Regions from separate parts of the Homo sapiens genome. Here region 1 is linked to region 2. The links come from fine-mapping of genetic effects on gene expression. A gene starts in region 2. The other region holds a variant in brackets. All regions are shown on one strand. Distances are between the middles of the regions. Region 1 overlaps LOC105369401 (a long non-coding RNA gene). Region 2 holds the start of GAB2 (GRB2 associated binding protein 2).

What was found. PIP is the estimated chance that this variant, and not a neighbour inherited with it, causes the effect.
Region 1: its variant is the best candidate, but not a certain one, in a credible set for the expression of GAB2 in cerebellar hemisphere (GTEx, PIP 0.60).

What each region holds. Positions count from the first base shown.
Region 1 is chr11:78,084,530-78,087,430 of GRCh38, forward strand. LOC105369401 (a long non-coding RNA gene) reads left to right here. Exons shown (of 3, transcript XR_950342.2): 3 at 1,091-2,466. Among named protein-coding and RNA genes, the nearest start is that of NDUFC2-KCTD14, 6.1 kb to the left of the region's middle. The variant G/C (reference allele first, on the strand shown) is at 1,399.
Region 2 is chr11:78,416,573-78,419,473 of GRCh38, forward strand. It overlaps GAB2 (GRB2 associated binding protein 2), which reads right to left and starts at 1,248. Exons shown (of 10, transcript NM_080491.3): 1 at 1,074-1,248. The coding sequence starts at 1,148. RefSeq lists silencers at 1-145, 608-737, 808-907, 1,018-1,637 and an enhancer at 234-988.

The sequences.
Region 1 (2,901 bases), 330 kb before region 2:
AACTCAGAAAGGGAAACCTAGCCAACCCCACAGATCCTAAATCCTTTCCCCACTCCTCTTTCCATTCCTTGAAAACAGCTCTAGAAACTGCTACCACACTAGCTCTCCCTGACTCATCCCAACCCTTTTCATTACACACAGCTGAAGTACAGGGCTGTGTGGTCGGAATTCTTACACAAGGACCGGGACCGCGCCCTGTAGCCTTTTTGTCTGAACAACTTGACCTTACTGTTTTAGGCTGGCCCTCATGTTTGCGTGTGGCAGCTGCCACCGCTCTAATACTTTTAGAGGCCCTTAAAATCGCAAACTATGCTCAACTCACTCTCTACAGTTCTCATAACTTTCAAAATCTATTTTCTTCCTCAAACCTGATGCATATACTTTCTGCCCCTCCAGCTCCTTCAGCTATACTCACTCTTTGTTGAGTCTCCCATAATTACCATTGTTCCTGGCCCAGACTTCAATCCGGCCTCCCACATTATTCCTGATACCACACCTGACCCCCATGACTGTATCTCTCTGACCTACCTGGCATTTCAACTTCTGTCACAACCTTCCATTGTCTTTCTAATGACTTTCCTGCTAGCATTACAGATATATCACAAACTTTATCAGTCCTTCGGGCCCAGGTCGGTTCCTTAGTCGCAGTTGTCCTCCAAAATCACCAAGGCCTTGACCTACTCACTGCTGAAAAAGGAGAACTCTGCATATTTTTAAATGAAGAATGTTGTTTTTATCTAAATCAATCCAGCCTGCTATATGACAACATAAAAAAGCTTAAAGTTAGGGCCCCAAAACTCGCCAGCCAGGCAAATAATTATGCTGGACCTACCTGGGCACTTTTTAACTGGGCGTCTTGGCTCCTTCCTACTCTTAGTCCCCTGGTACCTGTTTTTCTCCTTCTCTTATTTGGGCCTTTTGTCTTTCATTTAGTCCCTCAATTCACACAAAACCGCATCCAGGCCATCACCAATCATTCCATACTGCAGTTGCTGCTTCTAACAACCCCATGGTACTATCCGGTGCCCCAAAATCTCCCCACAGCCTAAACTTCTATTCCTCGTCCTATTATACTCCTTCTCACCTTTAGGACTAAACCAGTGATGAACTCCTGGCAACATCCAGACAAGACCAAGCTTCTGTGCAACACCCCCTCCAAACGGCTGTCCAAACATACTTCCAGGCCTGCTTCACCCGTTCCTCTAAACCATAATCTCTGAGGACCTGCTGTCTATAAAAACAACTTCCTTCAGGCCTTGTCCTCCAAAATGTTCCCCACCCCCAAAATCAAAGACCTCTGAATTAAAAATCTAAAATGCCTGGGGTGGCAGCTGTCAAATCCTTGCCCATGGGGTCCTCAGGCCTACTCATATAGAAATGACCAGCAATATGCATATA[G/C]AGGACCAGTTCCACATATCTGGCACTCAGGTCAACATCCAGGACGACACATGGTCTGTCATTGGTTATTAGAAGGCCTAGGACATTTCTCTCTTTGCCAGCCCCAACTTATTCCAGGAGACAGGGACTATTGTACTTACTGTCTTTCCTGTATAGGGTCTGCAGTAAGGACTATTGAACTCCTCCATTCAAAACACCACTCACACCTTTGGGAAAAAAGTAACATAATAGACTTTTGGCTCGATGCCAGGGGATCCTATTCATATGATGGCAAATGGGGACAAAAGGCCTTGGTATATAAAACGTTATTCCTACCTTGGCCTAAAAACTCACTGCCACCTACCTTAAAGCTATTATGCTTAATTGCTATTTTTAGATAATTTATTCTACTAGGAGAATTCCAAGCTCAAAAATATGCTAACTGGTGCCTTGTTAGCCACACAAAATTGTACCCGAAAACTTTCTAGACCAACTCACTATAAAATTAAATTTTCTTTAGGTGTCCATGCTGCCCCTAAGTCATGCCTGAAGCAGCCCTGAGAAACATCGCCCCTGCCCCAATAATCCCCAGTAAAAACTTATATTTTCTTTATCTTTTCTTATAACTTTATATTTTATAAATAAAAAGACAGGAATGTCAGGCCTCTGCGCCGAAGCTCAGCCATTGTAACCCCTGTGACTTGCACATATGTGTCCAGATGGCCTGCAGGAGCCAAGAAGTCTGGGGCAGCTGAAAAACCACAAAAGAAGTAAAACAGCCAGTTCCTGCCTTAACAGATTAACCAACATTCCACCATTCCACCATTGTGACTGGTCCCTGCCCTACCTTAATGGATCGATTGACCTTGTGACATTCTTCTTCTGGACAATGAGTCTTATGATCTCCCTACCATGTACCTTGTGACCCCCCTCCTCTGCTAACAATAGATAACCACCTTTTAGTGTAATTTTCCATTACCTACCCAACTCCTATAGGGCAACCCCTTCCCCATCTCCCTTCGCTGACTCTCTTTTCAGACTCAGCCCACTTGCACCCAAGTGAATAAACAGCCTTGTTGCTCACACAAAGCCTGTTGGTGGCGTCTTCACACAGACATGCGTGACATCTGCTCACCCACCTCTAATACTGCAGATTGAACAGTTCCCTTTGGAAAGCCCTTCCTGATGTTGAGCTAAAATGTCTTCCTGTCATGTCCATTCATTAGTAGAATAAACATTTTATCCAAATGAGGCTGATTAAACCAGAGGTTTATGCAAAGGTGTATGCATCAAAGATAGTGATTTCCTGAGTGGAAGAATTAAATACCAGCTAAGAGTGATTACATAAAGCATGGACCTTTTATCTCTATAGAAAAAACGCTACCTGACAATATTTCAAGTTAGAATTTTGCTTTTCTTTTTCTCAAGTCAGGGTCTCATTCTGTCACACAGACTGGAGTGCAGTGGTGCGATCATGCTGGCTAATTTTTAAATTTTTTGTAGACAGGGTCTGCTATGTTGCCC
Region 2 (2,901 bases):
GGAGTTCGGCACCACAGCCCGTTAAACAAGGGCATTTCATGGGAAACGGAGAGGGAGCAGATGAGAGACCTTGAAACCTTCCAGCAACCTTACCCCCACTTCCAAACTCCCGCGACTACCCCAAGACCATTTCGGCCAAATCTCAGTAACTGGCACCATCTTGTACTTTGACCTCACCAGGCAAGGCATCCTCTGGGGAGAGGGGTTAAAAAAAAAAAAAAAAAAAGCCAGAACTCCACGGCTCAGCGCCACGCTGTTCCACCTCCCCCAGGCTGCCAGTTCCCCACCTAGAGGGAAAAGGCTGTTCCAGCGATCTCAGTAAACACTGTCGGTTGGCAACACCTGGCCGCGGAGAGCCTCGATCTCTCCCGACCCCAGACACCCGGGAGCTGCCCGGTCCCAAACCCGGGCCAGCCACGGGGACCAAACTGCAGTGTCACACCGGGGTCGGGGGGAGGCGCCTGTGAGAGACGAACGGAATAAAGGGAAAGAAGGGGGACAAACAAATGAGTCACTTAATACAAGGGCTGCACATGCCGCTGACGCTGCCGGTGATGCAGCCGCGGACGGAGGGAGGCCGGCGGCCGGGAGGGGCAGGCGGAGAAAGGGAAGGAGAGGGCGTGAGGCGCTCGCCCTTTGTGGGGCCGTCCGCGCGGCCCCACAGCCTACGCCCCCCTTTCCCGCCCTCTCCCCGACCCTGCGGGCTGAAGCTGCTCGGGGCTGCCGCGGAGCCCCAGCCCCGAGAGTCAACTCTCTCGGTCTCCAGAAGCCATCAATACAAAACTTCGACACTGTATTTAGTTCACGAGCAGACCGGCTTGGGAGGCGCCGCAGCCGCACCCGCCTGGCGGAGCAGGAGCCGCAGCCTCAACCTGCCGCCCGCCCCGCCCCTCGGCGGCCCACCTGTGACAGGTGTGCAGGTGCCCCACACGCCCCCGGCCGCTCCTCGCCCCCGGCCCCCCGCGGCTCCGGGCCCGAGCTCCCCAGCCTGCCGCCCCTCCGGGAGTCCCCCGCCCCTCCGCAGGCCCCGGAGCGCCCCCCGCCCGCCCCTGGGCGGCCGCGCCCGCACTCACATAGCGCCTCAACTTCTTCTCGGGAGGCGATTTCCTCAGCCAGCCGGTGCACACCACGTCGCCGCCGCCGCTCATGCTGCCGGCCTGGAGCCCCCCGCCGGGTCGCGCGGACGAGGGCGCGGGCTCGGGCAGCTGGGGCAGCGGCCGGCGGTGCGCAGCTCGCGGGAGGCCAGGGGCGGGGCGGGCGGCCCGGCGGGGACTAGGCGGCGCGGCGCGGCGCGAGCCCGGCAGCCTCGCGCGCGCCCGCTCCCCCGCCCCGAGCGCGCGCAATCCGCACTCTCCGCCCGGCCGCCGGGGGAGCAGCTGCAGCAGGAAGGCCGGCTCGCTCGCCACGCCCGCTCCCGCCGCGCCCCCGAGGCCGCCGCGCACGCGGACGCGGGGCTAGGGACCCGCGAGGATACAGAAAGCCACCGCCGCCGGCGCGCCCCGGAGTCTCGCTTTCTCCTGAGGCCCCAAGCCGCGGGCGCGGAGGCCAGGGAGGCGACCGCGCCCCTGGCGCTGGCGGGTGTGAGGGGAAGGGACTGCGCGCCCTCGGTCGTCGATCGATTTTTCACCGAGCGTCGACGGGGAAGGGATACTAGGGCTGCTCACATTTCCGATACATTCTGCGGGTCAGGTTCCGGCTGAAAGGAGGGACCCCTTCCCAGCAAGAAGCTCCTTAACTCTGGCGTCCCTCGGCGGGAGGAGGAGACGGACCTACTACGCGCCGGAGCCTTTGCTTTTGTAGCTTACAGGATTGTCTTCAGTATTGTTCCTATTTTATGGACAGCCTAAGGGCAAGGGCTTGTACAAAGCCGAGCCAATTTTCCAATTCAGGTGTGTGGGGGAGGAGGGGTCCCGGTCATCTGCTATTCAAAATGAGGGCATTGCCTTAATGGGATCGACCTGGGAGCCTCTCATTGCCTGGAAACCAAGTCCAGCTGACTCCCTCCTACACTGCCTCTGGGAAAACACAGTTTAGTATAGAAAATTCGCATGATTTGTAGAATGGAAGAAGCAAAACTAGTCAATGTATTTCATAACGAATTGGAAGGCAAGGTCAAGTGCAGAAGAACAAGAAATTGGGGTCCAAATTCCCCAACGTTCCCGCTCATTGACACAGGCTATGAGACCTCTGTTTGTAAATATAATGGTATCCCAGATGTACGTGGAAGCACACAACCCCAGCACTTCAGCGGGAGGGGGGAGAAAAAAATCTTTTGTACGAGCTCTTTTCTCATCACAAAGTGTCTCTCTAAGCAGCATTAAAAGGCAGGTCCTCCCTAACTTCTCTGATAAGTGGATAGTAACCTGTTTATTCAATGGGGAACCGTGCTGTGTGGACAGATGAATTGGAGAAGCAGCATCTTGCAGTGCCCCACACAACCTCAGACTAAAGCTGTTTTGTTTATTTCTGTCTCTGTGCAGCTGAGTTGTTTCAAGCAGTTGGACATCATTTGGTCCAAAAGATCTTGATTGGGTTGGGGGAAGTTCACCCTCCTCAATTTGGAAAAGCGAATCCCCTACCACGTACTTAGCTCTTCTAGATACCCTGGGAGTTTTAGCGGTCAGTCCCCTGGATCTAACATTTCACTGACTTTCTTCAATATCCAGTGTGCTGCTGGATGGGAAGTAAAGCCAGAACTGGTAGGCTGGGACCACAGCTCCCTTAACCTTACAATTTAGGGATCCTTAAGTCACGTATGAAGGGCCACCACCAGAATGATGGCCATTTTAACTTCTGGCTTTAAGTACCTTAAATCCCTGTAAGACAAACAACACTTAACGTCTGCCAAATCAATCAGGAGGCGGTGACTTCCAACCAAAATAAAACTATCCTGACTTCATT